Homo sapiens: one gene and its partners. The protein of the gene in region 1 interacts with the protein of each later gene in a pairwise test. Each region holds a gene or a part of one and is shown on either strand. Other genes may lie near its edges. The genes, in order: UBE2Z, RNF144B, LPL and RNF103.

Region 1 (3,500 bases):
TGGGACTAGAGGCATGCGCCACCATGCCTGGCTAATTTTTGTATTTTTAGTAGAGACGGGGTTTCGCCAGGCTAGGCTGGTCTCGAACTCCTGACCTCAGGTGATCCACCCGCCTCGGCCTCCCAAAGTGCTGGGATTACAGGTGTGAGCCACCGCACCCGGCTGAAATTTTCTACTCTGTGATTCTTTATGGCAAATTTTCAATTTCAGGGCAGCTTCTCCTTTTCTACCTAACACACTTCTACTACTTTTACCCCACTGTCCTGTGGCTGGTATCTCAAAAGAGTTTTATATTGACCCAATGAGGGAGAGCCTACTTTGAGACACGCTTTCGCGAACAAATTTCATACAGAAGCAACGACTAAATTTCTTTATCATCATGGGTTTTAGCCTACCAGCAAAGACAATTAATTAAGTACCCTAACGAGATGAAGTACTTCTTTAAGGACAACCTCCTTTAAAAGACTTCTTCACTGCCAAAATCACAGCAGAACATATCCCTGGGTCTGAGCAAGTCCTAGAAAAATGAATCATGTCTCTAAGTTTATTTCAAATGCTGCTCTTCCCTCACACAAACCTGGAAACATGTTGGATAGCAGGAAAACAGAATAATCAGTTTGGGGGTACTTTCTCAACTTCAACCTGCACGTGTTCTCTGTCCCAGAGAAGTTCAGACCACTATAAAAACACCAATCCAAAATATGCGAGAAGATGTCCACACTGAGTTTTCAGCCCCCAAAGGCAACTAAAATGGGAACTCTATGAAGCAAAACCTCAGAAGCATCCAGAAAGAAGATGCACTAGAAACTCATTTCATATCTAATGTGATTTCCAATCTCAGACATTTGTCATTATTAAAATATTATAATCAGGTCAGGCATGGAGGCTCATGCCTGTAACCCCAGTGCTTTGGGAGCCACAAGAGGACGACTGCTTGAGGACAAGAATTCAAGACCAGCCTGGGCAACATAGTGAGATACCTGCCTCTACCAACAAAACAAAACAAAACAAAAACAAACAAAACAAAACAAAAATGAAACCATAATGATCACCACCACCACCACCGCCACTGCCTTCAAAGCAACTTATTGCAAGACTCAAATTAAGACACCCCAAATCTTGAATGGCACAGACCTGCAGCCTTTCTCAACCTGTTCAGGAGAGAAAATAAGGCCTTAACACCCCAAGAGAGTGGTTCTGAAACTGCAGTATGCACCACAATCATCTGGAGAGCTTGTAAAAAACAGATTTCTGGGCCGGGCACGGTGGCTCATGCCTCTAATCCCAGCACTTTGGGAGGCCAAGGTGAGTGGATGATGAGGTCAAGAGATCGAGACCATCCTGGCCAACATGGTGAAACTCCGTCTCTACTAAAGATACAAAAATTAGCTAGGTGTGGTGGTGCACGCCTGTAGCCCCAGCTACTTGGGAGACTGAGGCAGGAGAATCGCTTGAATCTGGGAGGCAGAGGTTGCAGTGAGCCAAGATCGTGCCACTGCACTCCAGCCTGGCGACAGAGCAAGACTCCGTCTCAAAACAAACAAAAAACAACAACCAAAAAAACCAGATTTTTGGCCCCAACCCCAGAGTTTCTTTTGTAGGTCTAAGATAGGGCCCCAGAAACTGCTCGGCTACAAGTTCCCAGATGCTCAGGGCCACACTCTTAAGAGAACCACTTCTCAAAGGTTACCACTGTAATAAATTAACTTCTCCCCTCTGCATCTAGAATGATACTAGTCACATACCATCCTGAGGAGATTTGAGAAGAGTCACTCAATCATTTTCTGTGTTCTGTAGTTCAGATGAGGGACTCCGGTTGATAAAGGCTGACCTAGAGTAATTATCTGCTAACAACCGACTTGGCTACTTAAAAGTCTCCTCTTACCCTAGAATACTCAAGCAGACTTTCCCATTGCGGTAGAAGTTGGGGTTAAACCTCACTGTGTTATTGCCCGTTGTCATCAGTTTGACCCGAGGTGGGTGGATGGGATAGTCGGGCGGACACCGAAACACGAACAGGAAGAAACCCCCTTCATAAGGAGTGTCAAATGGGCCTGTGATCAATGCATGAATCTGCAAAATAAAACCCCATCTCAAAATTGTGAGGTGATGACCCACCCCAAGCCCTCCTGGCTACCCTCCACCTACTACCCACACCAGAAGCAGAGTCCATAATCTGGTACACATGTTCTATATCCTCACCATGCAGAAGGAACATCCTGTATTCACTCATACTAATACGTAGGTTTGGAATTTTAAGAAATCTCATTACAGTGGAATGACATCTTACTCAGGGGTTACTTCTAAAGTTAGAGCCCAAGGCGAAAACTGAATCTAGTCAAAATCACTCTTGAGTATCCCCTAAAACTCTCTTAAAGCATTTTTTTTTTTTGTGCAGACCTCCCTGATCAGTGTTACATATAATGGATAAAACACCACTGTGGAAAAATATAATATGCTTATCTATAAAATATAACCCTAGCGTTTTTAATTTTGAGAAATCGACACAGATTTTGACTGAATATATGTTTGGATTTGCCCAGGCCAAACATGCATATGATGCAACCCCACCCTACATTTATGTGGCACGAAGGGAAAGTATGATGAAAGGAGACGAAGAAAGGGATTGGAGGCCACAGCCCAGTGCCAGTAACACAGCAGGGTTAGGGGGTGTGATGGATGCCTAGGGTATCTGCTTGCTTCCTCTGCAGAGGATCAAACCTATTGTGGAGGATGTGGCTCAGGCAGCACATCATGACTGAAAATGGGGAAGACTCAGGGTCCACTCAGAGCCATTAGACCAGTCCCAGAACTTTCCCCAATACTGTTTAAAAAAAAAAAAAAAAAAAAAATCAGCCGTCCTGAAAACGACACTAAATTCTCTTCCCCCTCAAGCCATAATTCTTCAACAGGATTTCCCCCCCTGAAGGGAGGAAAACCTGAACTGACTCAGTTATATTTCTTCTTCCACAAAGGCTCCTAGGCATTTAGGTCTGCTAAGCATTTGAACAGCAAAAGGAAAGGGACGTGGCAATCCAATGCCTAAGTCTATAGTTCCCACCTTGCCCTCCTGGCAAGACCCTACGTCATATTCTGGCTCTCAGTCATTTGGAATAGTAAACTCAACTGGTCTCAACATGGCATCAACTCTGGGACCCCAGGTACTAGGCTATTAACACTGGTACTTGACTGAGGACGAGATGTCCTAGGAAAAACATTTCTAACTACATAAAAAAAAAATATGAAGGGAAATCTATTCAAAACAACAAAAAAAGATACACCAACAATACAAAATCTGAATTTTTACTGTAAGAAATTTACTGTAAGAAAACTATGTGTTTCACTTAAACAGCATTAGGTTTAGGAAATATGATTTCTTTCTAACATCAGTTTAAGTGCAACTGCACTTCTGTGGGTAGAGCATTCAGTGACAGAGAAACCTAGGTATCTATGCCAGAGAAATGTGACATTATGTATTAAGCTTTCTCTCTGAGAGGAGG
Region 2 (3,889 bases), on another chromosome or scaffold:
CCACAGGATATTAATGTAAATAAAAATCCAGTTGATCTGCACTGAGGTCTTAATTCCAAGCTATGCTATGAAATTCTAAGAGTTACTCAAGTACAGGGGACAAACAGAAGAGGAGACATATGTATACTCTCAATGTGTTTATATGCCTTTGTGAGACATCGAGTCATCACTGTGAAGTAGCTAGAATAACAGATATGAATGCATAAATATGGGAGGGAGGTAGCAAAGGGGAAAGTTTTTGAGAAGGGTGGGTGGTGATGAAGAAAGGCTGAAGTGTTGCCTTGTAAAATGGAGACATATTCTCGGGAAGCTAATATTCTAATAAAGCAGAAAAAAAGAGCAGCAATCTAAAGGTCCCATCCTTGCCTTGTTAGGAAAGCTATCCCCATATCAGCTAAGAACACACCAGGCAACCAGTTTCCACTCAATGCAATCTGAAAATCAGCATTATGTTGATCTTGGTACTTCTGCCCAATAGAGTAGTTTGGTTAGCTACTGGTTCCTTTTCCTAACAGAAACTATTAGTGAACCCAATGGTACTAATTGAGTCTAGTAAAGTGCTGAGCATTATCAGCCATTAGCTGAAGTTCTACCCTAAATACAATCCAAATACAATGGCAGGGTGACCTGCTGGCTGGTAGCAGTAGCAACAGCAATGAAGGAAGCAAGGGCTTATGGTAGACCTCCTTTGTGGCCAGTGTTGTAGCTCTACTCTCCGCTTGCATCTCCAACCAGCTCTCTGGTCATTCAAGGACAAGATGAACCAGCGTACATTCTTTCAATCAGAAAAACAGTTCTAATGCATGCCCTAACCTAAGAGGACATGAACAAATGGAAACATAGGCTGCCCCTCTCGTAGTCAGGGAACTGCAATTACTTAAATAAACTGTATATCTATTAATTACTTTTTTTTTTTTTTTTTGAGATGGAGTCTCACTCTGTCTCCAGGCTGGAGTGCAGTGGCGCGATCTCGGCTCGCTGCAAGCTCTGCCTCCTGGGTTCACACCATTCTCCTGCCTCAGGCTCCCTAGTAGCTGGGACTACAGGTGCCCGCCATCACGCCCAGCTAATTTTTTGTATTTTTTAGTAGAGACGGGGTTTCACCATGTTAGCCAGGATGGTCTTGATCTCCTGACCTCATGATCTGCCCTTTTTAAAAGAATAATGCTCAAACTCAATGAGTACATACATGATATTACACATAAGTTGTCATTATTTGAAAAAATGAAATAGATTAGAAAATATCCTCTAGCATAAACAAACCCAGGAAATATTTAGGTCTTAGATGTAAGAAAGTAAATATTCACCTATTCAGGCTCTGTGAGGTGGCAGTATTGTATCACTGTGCCTCCTGTGGTAGAGAAGAGGACTTCTGTTTTCTCGCCACTGTTTCATGGCTTAAAGTGCTCAAAAAGCACTTTATTTAGTCTATAATTTCTTAGTTTTAACATCGTCATTTCAACAGTTTCTAGGATGGCAATGAGATCACAACTTTGTAACTTGGAGACTATTAACCTTCTAAAAATGGAACTGATATGCAAATATAGCCCTATTAACCTTTTTGTGGGTTAAAAAAAAAAAGTAGGCACTTCATCAGGAAGGAGAAGCATCTTAAAGTATTAGCAAGAACTGTTTTCCAAACAATCTCTTTGCTGCTTGAAATTAGGTTATGAATAAAGTCTGTTACAACTAATTTAGTGAGATCTAATATTTTTTCTTACAAAATATATATTGGTGCTGATGTCCAAGCATGGCCAACAATGTACATGACGTTGTGATAAGCTAACTCCAAATCCTACAGAGGACAGAACATCTGGCACATCGTTTTTTTTTTGAGACGGAGTCTCGCTCTGTCGCCCAGGCTGCAGTGCAGTGGTGCTATCTCAGCTTGCTGCAAGCTCTGCCTCCTGGGTTCACGCCATTCTCCTGCCTCAGCCTCCCAAGTAGCTGGGACTACAGGCACCTGCCACCACACCTAATTTTTTTTTTTTTTTTTTTTTTTTTTTAGTAGAGATGGGGTTTCACCATGTTAGCCAGGATGGTCTCGATCTCCTGACCTCCGTGATCCTCCCGCGTCGGCCTCCCAAAGTGCTGGGATTACAGGCGTAAGTCACCGCGCCTGGCCCTTGGCACATCTAGTTTTAACATTTGCAAACTGCTGCTCCTTTTTTTTTGAGATGGAGTCTGGCTCTGTCCCCCAGGCTGGAGTGCAGTGGCCCGATCTCGGCTCACTGCAAGCTCCGCCTCCTGGGTTCACGCCATCCTCCTGCCTCAGCCTCCCGAGTAGCTGGGACTACAGGCGCCCACCACCACGCTTGGCTAATTTTTTTGTATTTTTAGTAGAGATGTGGTTTCACCGTGTTTGCCAGGATGGTCTCGATCTCCTGACCTCGTGATCAGCCCACCTCAGCCTCCCAAAGTGCTGGGATTACAGGCATGAGCCACCGCAACTGGCTTTTTCTTAAAAGCACATTTCTTCTTGCCTTCTTTCCATGTTCTCATTACCCTACAGGGTAAGGCCCAAGAGGTAGAAATCCATTCCCAGTTTTCCAAACAATATAAACTTATCAAAGAAGGTGGGAGTGAATATGAGAATAACAGCTCAATGATATTTTTGGCATGGCAATTTTGCATTCATCATGGTAGCTACCTCTTCAATATCACCACTGTGCCTTGCCCACTCCTGTTTTAATCAGTGGTTCCCTGCCTCCCACAATTATTCACACAGCCCTGCTAAATAATTTTCTTCCCTATGCCTGGCATAACAACAAAGCTCAGAAGCAGGAAGGAACGCCACTTAAAGGCAGGTCAGACAATGATGTAATTGACCAATCAAGGAGAAGTGGTATTTCAAAGAGCCTTATAGAGCAAGAGCCAGGCTGATTTCTTGGGTCAGGACATTACCAGAAAACCAGAGCCGCTAAAGCACGAATATCTAAATCAAAAATTTTTTTTCAAATGAATAAAAGCATGTGCCAATATTACCCCCTCCTGTTAAAGTTAAAAGTTTCATATAGAAATTTTAATTAGAAACAAATTGGAAACCAGTTTGGAAGAGGAATCTTCACCCCACCTGAGCAAAGTGCAGGTGTAGATTTTTGTATGTCTTTGCCAATTAATTTCCTATAACAGGAATTTATCATGAAGGAAACAAAGTCAACACACAAAGAACAAATTCTACACATTAGGTGCTAGGGATGTAAAGGTGATTAAACCCAGCTCCTACTTATTAAGAGTCAACTAGTTGAGGAGGTTTTCAACAGAGGATTTCATATAATCATATGCAGGAGAATGTGTGGGTTTATGGTTTCAGCCACAAGTTCAACAGACAGAAACGAGTTGTCTTGTTTTATCTTCCCAAGAAAAACAAAGAACAAGTTGATGAAGGGCTGGGACTCAAACTCGTGACTTCAAAAGATTTAGAAAACAATGGGACATGGCTTTCAAAGTATGCTCTTAATAAATACTCCAAGCCATGTGATCAGAAGTATCTCCAGCTATGAATAAGAAAAGTCTATTTCACTTAGATTGCTGTGTTTTGAATTCAAGAAAGAGATCTGCTCATAGATGAGAAGATCCTCATTCCACGTTGCAGAAGCATTGGTCATTTTTACTCATTTAATATATAGTTATCCATTTTTTAATAACAACTATGGTATGATGCATTAGGTTCCAAAGTACTCACCGACTGGGTAAATAGCAAATGCCAAAGTTAATAAAACTAAAACTTTAGTCCAAGACCTCCCACATACACCTAAAGGTAAAAATTATGAATTAAAATATTTACATAAATTAACTTAGGTGTCATATACCTCTTAATGGTCAAATGGTCAAGGTAACACTACCAAGAAAATTAAGATGATCGAGGTGACAAACATCGAAGTACTTT
Region 3 (3,889 bases), on another chromosome or scaffold:
GCTGCAACAATCTGGGCTATGAGATCAATAAAGTCAGAGCCAAAAGAAGCAGCAAAATGTACCTGAAGACTCGTTCTCAGATGCCCTACAAAGGTAGGCTGGAGACTGTTGTAAATAAGGAAACCAAGGAGTCCTATTTCATCATGCTCACTGCATCACATGTACTGATTCTGTCCATTGGAACAGAGATGATGACTGGTGTTACTAAACCCTGAGCCCTGGTGTTTCTGTTGATAGGGGGTTGCATTGATCCATTTGTCTGAGGCTTCTAATTCCCATTGTCAGCAAGGTCCCAGTGCTCAGTGTGGGATTTGCAGCCTTGCTCGCTGCCCTCCCCTGTAAATGTGGCCATTAGCATGGGCTAGGCTATCAGCACAGAGCTCAGAGCTCATTTGGAACCATCCACCTCGGGTCAACAAACTATAACCCTTGTGCCAAATCCAGCCTACTTCCTGCTTTTGTAAATAGTTTTTTTAAAACTTTTAAGTTCAGGGGTACGTATGTAGGTTTGCTAAAAAGGTAAACTTGTGACATGGGAGTTTGTTGTCCAGAATATTCCATCACCCAGGTATTAAGCTTAGTACCCATTAGTTACTTTTCCTGAAGCTCTCCCTCCTCCCACCCTCTGGGAGGCCCCAGTGTCTGTTGTTCCCCTCTATGTGCTCATGCAAAGTTTTATTAGGACACAGCCACACACATTCATTACCATATTGTCAAAGGCTGGTTTCATGCCACCATAACAGAGTTGATAGCCCACAGAGCCTAAAATATTTACTCCCTGGCCCTTTACAGAATGTTCACAACTTACATAAAGGCAAGGACCATCTGTCTTATTTATTTATTTATTTAATTTGAGATGAAGTCTAGCTTTCTCCTAGGCTGGAGGAGAGGGGCATGATCTTGGCTCACCACAACCTCTGCCTCCCGGGTTCAAATGATTCCCCTGCCTCAGCCTCCGGAGTAGCTGGGATAACAGGCATGCACCATCATGCCCAGCTAATTTTTGTATTTTTAGTAGAGAGGGGGTTTCACCGTGTTGACCAGGCTGGTCTCGAACTGCTGACCTCAGGTGATCTGCCCTCCTTGGCCTCATCTGTCTTTTTAAATGCAACTATTCCTGGAAGGCAAGAATATCTCACACCTTCTAAGATACTGCCATTTTGCCAGGAGTTTGTTTCACACTTGAATTTCAAGCTTGGCCTCTTGTTTAGAGGCAGACCTAAAGGAATGGTCGGAAAATGAGAGAGGAGGTCTTCGGATAAATCCGGTGAGAGGGACCAACTTCAGGAAGGGTGGCTTTTGTGGAATCCAGATGGAAACCTGAGGGAAGGGATGATATTAAAGAACAGTGGCCCCAGGTAAAACATATGGCACCCATGTGTAAGGTGATTCTTAGAATCTGTAGAGGTGTCTTTCGTGGTATAGAGGTTGAGGCACCTGTGCTTCAAGGAAACCTTAACTCTTCAAAATCAGGCAATGCGTATGAGGTAAAGAGAGGACTGTGGGACCATAATCTTGAAGACACAGACAGGCTTCACTCATCCCTGCCTCCTGCACCAGTGGGTTCAAGGCTCTGTCAGTGTCCCCTAGGGGCACCTCACCACTCCCAGCTTCTTCAGCTCTGGCCTGTCCTGCTGCCTGCAAGGGTTTTGCTTAATTCTCAATTCAATGTCTCTTCATCTTTTAGCAGCTGTGGGGTTTTGTTGTTGTTCTTCTGTTTTTGCTTAGTATCTGACTACTTTTTAATTATAAAAAGAGATGTATCTAAACAAAATAGAGATTGTTATCAGAAGTTCACAACATTTATTAAAAATTTTTTCACCTGGACAAGAGTCTAAAGCAGCATAAAAATATGGTCTGCTATATTCTAAACCATCAGTCTTAAGAGATCTGTGTCTCAGCTTAAGAGAAAATACATTTAATAGACAGTAACACAAATAAGAAAAAAATCTGACCAAGGATAGTGGGATATAGAAGAAAAAACATTCCAAGAATTATTTTATTTATTTATTTATTTATTTATTTATTTATTTATTTATTTATTTTTGAGACACAGTCTCGCTCAGTTACCCAGGCTGGAGTGCAGCGGCGCAATCTTAGCTCACTGCAACCTCTGCTTTCCGGTTCAAGCGATTCTCCTGCCTCAGCCTCCTGAGTAACTGGGATTACAGGCACCCGCCACCACGCCCAACTAATTTCTGTATTTTTCTTAGTAGAAACAGGGTTTCACCATGTTGGCCAAGCTAGTCTCAAACTCCTGACCTCAGGTGATTCACCCACCAAGGCCTCCCAAAGTGCTGGGATTACAGGCATGAGCCACCATGCCTGGCCTCCAAGAACTCTTTTTTCCTCCATCATCATGGTTCTATTTTAGTCCTGCTGCCTTTCCTTTTAACCTCTCCCCAGGCCCATTTGCTCAGGGTTTTTGGTAGAGACCAGAGGAGGGGCAGGGAGGAGATATAGAAGTTCAACTACCTGCTTCCAGAGGCTGTCCCTAGTATAGAATACTTTAGGGGCTGGCTTTACAAGGCAGTCCTTGTGGCCTCACTGATGGCTCAATGAAATAAGTTCTTTTTTAAAAAAAATTTTATTTATTTCCATAGGTTATTGGGGGAACAGGTGGTGTTTGGTTACATGAGTAAGTTCTTTAGTAGTGATTTGTGAGATTTTGGTGTGCCCATTACGGAATGGAAAAATCAACGAAATAAGTTCTATGATGCACCTACTAGACACCTAATCTGCGCTAGATGGTGGGGGAATTAAGAGCATGGGCATGATCCTGTGACCGGAAGCCCGCTTACAGTCAGGGTGGAGGACAGACCTACTCATGAAACAAACACAGTGACATATAGTGACACAGAAGCAAATGTCAAATATGCTTGCTCCAGATGCTAAGGCACAAGATGGCCAAGGATGGCGGAGTTCATGGAGAAAGCATCATGAGTGTTTTGGCCTTCTGATTTGATCTCCCTAGCACCCCTCAAAGATGGCTACTTCCTAATGCTGCTTGGCAATTCAGACACATTTGGGTTTTTCCTATGCATATAACCACACTTTTCTGAAAGGGAGTAGAATTCAAGGTCTGCATTTTCTAGGTATGAACACTGTGCATGATGAAGTCTTTCCAAGCCACACCAGTGGTTCCATGTGTGTGCACTTCCGGTTTGAGTGCTAGTGAGATACTTCTGTGGTTCTGAATTGCCTGACTATTTGGGGTTGTGATATTTTCATAAAGATTGATCAACATGTTCGAATTTCCTCCCCAACAGTCTTCCATTACCAAGTAAAGATTCATTTTTCTGGGACTGAGAGTGAAACCCATACCAATCAGGCCTTTGAGATTTCTCTGTATGGCACCGTGGCCGAGAGTGAGAACATCCCATTCACTCTGTGAGTAGCACAGGGGGGCGGTCATCATGGCACCAGTCCCTCTCCTGCCATAACCCTTGGTCTGAGCAGCAGAAGCAGAGAGCGATGCCTAGAAAACAAGTCTTTAGTTAAAAAAATCAGAATTTCAAAATTGAGGTCTTTCCTCTATTTGATATTGAGAAAAAAATGCTTCAAATTGGCCATTTTATTTTCACTTACTAGTTATATTTTTTTATTTATCATCTTATATCTGTTTATTTCTTTTATAAAGCTGCTGTTAAACAATATAATTAAACTATCTCAAAAGGTTTGACATTAAAGAAAATGAGCAATGGTAACAGGAAACCACTCTATAGATGTACATATAATATGTACAGAAAATATAAGTAGTAAGAAGTCCATGACAAAGTGTTAGCTCTTTTTTTTTTTTTTTTTTTTTTTTTTTTTGAGATGGAGTCTCTCTCTATTGCCCAGGCTGGAGTGCAGTGATTCGATCTCAGCTCACTGCAACCTCTACCTC
Region 4 (4,535 bases), on another chromosome or scaffold:
CCCTTGTTCACTTTATTTTAAATGGGCACCATTCGGAGGCTACATTCTCACAGTCCATTCTTTGCTTCCCGTTCCTCCCTTGCTCCATGACCTGGGATCATGATCCCTTTCTTCCTAAAACTTTCACCCCTAGTTTCAGATAGTTGACAGTTTTGCACAAATAGTAACATTTCCCCGTAATTACTGTTTTTTTTTTCCTTCCTTATCAAAAGGGGCTGGTCAAAGCCAACCTTGTTCAGTTTATGAACCCAACTCCTTCCTCCCTCAAGACTGACACAGAGATTGACGTAAAGAGTACGCTCGGCCCGGTTAAATTTATAAGCACAGAACCAGGTATCGCATGCTTGTCCATGTGACTCTTTTTTTTCTTTTCTTTCTTTCTTTTTTTTTTTTTTTTTTTTTTTTTTTTTTTGAGACGGAGTCTTGCTATGTCACCCAGGCTGGATGGAGTGCAGTGGCGCGATCTCAGCTCCCTACAAGCTCCGCCTCCCGGGTTCACGCCATTCTCCTGCCTTAGCCTCCCGAGTAGCTGGGACTACAGGGGCCCACCACCACGCCGGCCTAATTTTTTGTATTTTTAATAGAGGCAGGGTTTCACCGTGTTAACCAGGATGGTCTCGAACTCCTGACCTCGTGATCTGCCCGCCTCGGCCTCCCAAAGTGCTGGGATTACAGGCGTGAGCCACTGTGCCAGGCCCATGTACAAAATAAAGCACCCGGAACTTTGCACCTGGACTTATCTACACTCGACAATCTTTGTCCTAGGAACTCAGGGAGTCCACACCAGGCTTTTAACACCCTTGAGACTGAAGGAGGGAAAAGGCTGTAACTGGCAGCGACAACTGGGCCTAGTATAACGCGAACTCCAGTTTTGGCCAAACCTCCTCCAACACACATGTGCAAAGCCACATTCTCATGAAGAGGGGGCAAAACATTTGCTTTCTGGGTTTAACCTTCTACCATCTCAAACCAACTGTGCCAAAAATTTCCCTGTTCACCAGGATTCATCAAAAAACGTACATTTCTATTTTCACCGATTTTAAGAGAATAATTAACTGCTCTATTTTTACAAAAAATACACAAAGTGATACAATCTAAAGACTAATCCTCAGACAAAATCAATTGCTAAACATTGGAGGGGCAAAAGGGGAGACCACGCCGCAAAAGCACGGAGAGGCAACTTTCGGCACCGCGGGAAGGCCCCGACCACGCTGCGGCTCCGCCTCTCCTCCCGCCCCTCGTTCGGTAGTCCGGTAGCCCCGCGGCTCCCCGAATTCCCCGCCCTCGGCCCCTGCGGGCGCACCCTGCAGGCCCCGCCCCGGCCCCGCCTCATCGCGACGTCAGTTGTTATGTCTCGGCTCCGGCCGCGGCCGCCGCTGATACACGGTTGTGGAGGGTACGGCCGCGGTCTCCGGAGGTGGCGGGGGTGTTGGGGACGGGTGCTGCGACCGGCACTGCCCATCCGAGCGGGACGGGCGCTGAGTGGCCGGGAGGCAGCCGGGTAGCCGCCTGGAGGAGCAGTCTCGGGGCCTATTATTGGTTTTTTCCCTCCGAGACCGATTCCATCTGCAGAGACCGCGACGCCCCATCCTGGGCCGGGCCGCAGTGCCCGCCCGCCTGAGAGGCGCCGCCCGCCAGCCGGCCCGAGCGAACCTGGAGCCGCCGCCGTGCCCGCCGCTCTTCTCGCGGAGCCTGGGCGGTCGGCGGGGCCTGGGGCCTGGGCTTCGGGCGCGGCGTTGCGGCGGCCGCTCCTCCCCGCGCAGAACACGCTGGGCCCCGGGCCTGGCCCGGCCGAGCGCCGCGCCCTCCTGACCCGCGGCCGCGGGAGTCCGGCCCCCACGGCCCCTCGGGCCCCGGCCTGCCGCCCGGATCCCCGCCTCCTGGGCGGATCTGAGTTATTTTTTGGTCTCCCCCTCCCCCTTGAGATCGCGGCACCGGAGGGCCGACCCCGCCACCTGGGTCAGTGCCCGCCCCGGGGGAAGCGTCCCTCGTTTTGTTCTTCCCCGCGAGCTCTCCCCGCGCCCCTCTCCTTTCTGTGCTTAATGGATGGGGGTTTTGAGTTTTTCCCCTTTATTTTTGTCGGCTCTTGACTGGGAGGCCCGGCGCGAGGCTCTGCGTCTCTGCGTCCCTCGTCGCCGCCTCGCGCCCGCGCGGATCCCGTCACCTGCTTCCCCGCCGGGGATGGCCGGCCAGTGACGGCGCCGGGTGGCCCGCGCGTGGACACGGGGCCCTCGCCCAAGCTGCCACCGAGCCGCGGCCCCCGCCCTCGACCCTTCTCTCTCCCGTATTCCGAGCTCTCTGGAAAGAGAGGAAACTCCAGGGAAGATGTGGCTGAAGCTTTTTTTCTTGCTCCTCTATTTCCTGGTCCTGTTCGTCCTGGCCAGGTTTTTTGAGGCCATTGTGTGGTATGAAACTGGCATCTTTGCCACCCAGCTGGTGGATCCGGTGGCGCTGAGCTTCAAGAAGCTGAAGACCATTTTGGAGTGCCGGGGGTTGGGCTACTCAGGGTTGCCCGAGAAGAAGGATGTCCGGGAGCTGGTGGAAAAGTCAGGCGAGTATCGGGCTTCCCCTAGGGTCCCCTCCACCTGGGAGAGGGGACGACCTGTACCTCCTGGTACCTGGCTGTTCCCCCAGAGTGAGGCCTTTCCTGGAAGCGTTAAAGCTGCCCAGGTTTCTTCGTCCAAGCTTCCTACAATCAAGTATGCGGATCCCAGCTTTGAGGAGGAGTCTGAAATTATTTGGAGGAGTGTTGGTGTATCCTTTTAAGGTTATCGTAAAATGACAGTTTAAAGTGTGGCTTCTTAGCGTTGTTTACTAAGTTGAGTGATTTTCTCAAAATTCTGGAATATCAACTAGTTACAAACTGGAAAGCATTATTTGTCAGTTGAAGTTCATAAAAACGTAAGAAAAACTCCAAAACGTTGTCTGTCAATAGCAATATTTGTCACGATAGTAATAATAAGATACCCAGAGTGGGGACACATCTTTGGAATACTTACTATCAGAGGCACTTGGGCCTAGGATTTAAATGTTAAATCATGAGTTTGAATATAGACAGTATACACCGTACAGTATTAGCTTTTCAGACTTTAAGTTTGGTGAAAATAAGGCGAGCATTTTGTATAAATGCCTGCCATGTTCGAGTTTATATTATATTTCTGTTAGGATTTTTAAAAATTTGCATCTTGGATGTGTAAAAGAAAAATTTTTTTTGTCTTCTGTGTCACAGGTACCCTTGCATTGTTTAATGGGTTGAGAAATATACGTGAAATAGTGCTGAGAGAATATTCAATGTCTTAAAGAATGTGTTTTTAGTAATTGTTGGTTTTGGTAGGATTGGGTGAGAAATATGGTTAATTTTTTTCACTGCTGCACAAAGTATATCTTTGGATATACTTCCTGAAAGTGGAATGTAATTTGAGAAAGGCTTTCTGCGTTGCTGTGGGAAGCAGCTGAAACTGATGGTTATCTTTTTTGTTGTTTCAAGTATTTTTGTCAGCTGTATCTTTTACAAGACAAATCTTTTCCTTCTTTAGTACCTTATAGACATGTAGCGTGATAGACAAGAGTATGAGCTCGCTAGCAGTTTAACACTTGGATATTTGTAGGTTGCGGGTTATAAAACTCATATCTCACTATTAGGGTAGAGGAGAGGAACACACTCTGCAGAAGTGATAAATGTTTCTTTAGAGAAAATATAAAATCGTATATTATTCTTGCCCCTTGTTTGCTGACTGGTTTATGGCGATTCTTATTTCTACCATAGGGGGAAGAAGTGGAGTAACTAGGGTAAAAGATCTCTAATAAATAAACTCTCTTGGTTTAGAGATGAGAAGTGTCTCAACTGCCAAAGCCATCATTTTTTTATGGAAAATAATTTGGTCACACATTTTTTTTTCTTTTGACTGTTATTTATTATTGCCTTCTTTTGGGCCTAAAAATACTTGGCACATTGAATGTACTAGAAGTCCACATTTAACTTTAAGACGCACAGCCCAGTATGACTCAAATCACACGTTTTATGGCAGAAAAGTCATGGTATAGCAGTTTAAAATTTAAGTGTTTATTGTGAATGGTTTTGCTGCTATCATGGTGCAGTACTTGGTTTCTCACTGTTTAATATTTAAGGCGAAAGTTAAAATAATTTGATTTTAGTGTTTTCCTTTCCTTTTTGTTTAATGATACAAGCTCTAAATTTATAATATAAATTTGTATATGAATATGGAGTTTGTTCTGTCTAACAGGTAAAGTTCTAACCTCCAAGTCATACAAACCCTGTTGCTCTTTTAAGCAGGGCTGATGGCAAATTCTGTGAACCCAATTCTACATCTTTTAAGTAAGAAGCATATAAGCCATACTGTTTAAAAATGTATATGAAGCCTGTATGTGTCATTCATAAAACTAAATAATTAAGAAAGTTGTGCCTTTTTGGAGTGGTACAAATTTGGTAAGTTCCTAATAATTATGTGATAACCCCACTAAAATATAAGCCCTGTTCTATAAGAGATGGATTTTTGTCTATTTTGTTCACTTTT

What was found.
Region 2: the proteins of UBE2Z (region 1) and RNF144B interact in a two-hybrid assay, tested with the Homo sapiens proteins (one large-scale study listed by BioGRID and IntAct).
Region 3: the proteins of UBE2Z (region 1) and LPL interact in a two-hybrid assay, tested with the Homo sapiens proteins (one large-scale study listed by BioGRID and IntAct).
Region 4: the proteins of UBE2Z (region 1) and RNF103 interact in a two-hybrid assay, tested with the Homo sapiens proteins (one large-scale study listed by BioGRID and IntAct).

Annotation. Positions count from the first base shown.
Region 1 is NC_000017.11:48,911,407-48,914,906, reverse strand, and holds part of UBE2Z (ubiquitin-conjugating enzyme E2 Z), read right to left. Parts: intron 2,074-3,500; coding exon 1,886-2,073; intron 1-1,885. UniProt on the Homo sapiens protein: Catalyzes the covalent attachment of ubiquitin to other proteins. Specific substrate for UBA6, not charged with ubiquitin by UBE1. May be involved in apoptosis regulation.
Region 2 is NC_000006.12:18,390,153-18,394,041, reverse strand, and holds part of RNF144B (E3 ubiquitin-protein ligase RNF144B), read right to left. Parts: intron 1-3,889.
Region 3 is NC_000008.11:19,955,991-19,959,879, forward strand, and holds part of LPL (lipoprotein lipase precursor), read left to right. Parts: coding exon 1-93; intron 94-3,269; coding exon 3,270-3,390; intron 3,391-3,889. UniProt on the Homo sapiens protein: Key enzyme in triglyceride metabolism.
Region 4 is NC_000002.12:86,620,677-86,625,211, reverse strand, and holds the start of RNF103 (E3 ubiquitin-protein ligase RNF103), read left to right. Parts: upstream 1-1,346; 5' UTR 1,347-1,349; coding exon of another isoform or gene 1,350-1,396; 5' UTR 1,397-2,325; coding exon 2,326-2,551; intron 2,552-4,535. UniProt on the Homo sapiens protein: Acts as an E2-dependent E3 ubiquitin-protein ligase, probably involved in the ER-associated protein degradation pathway.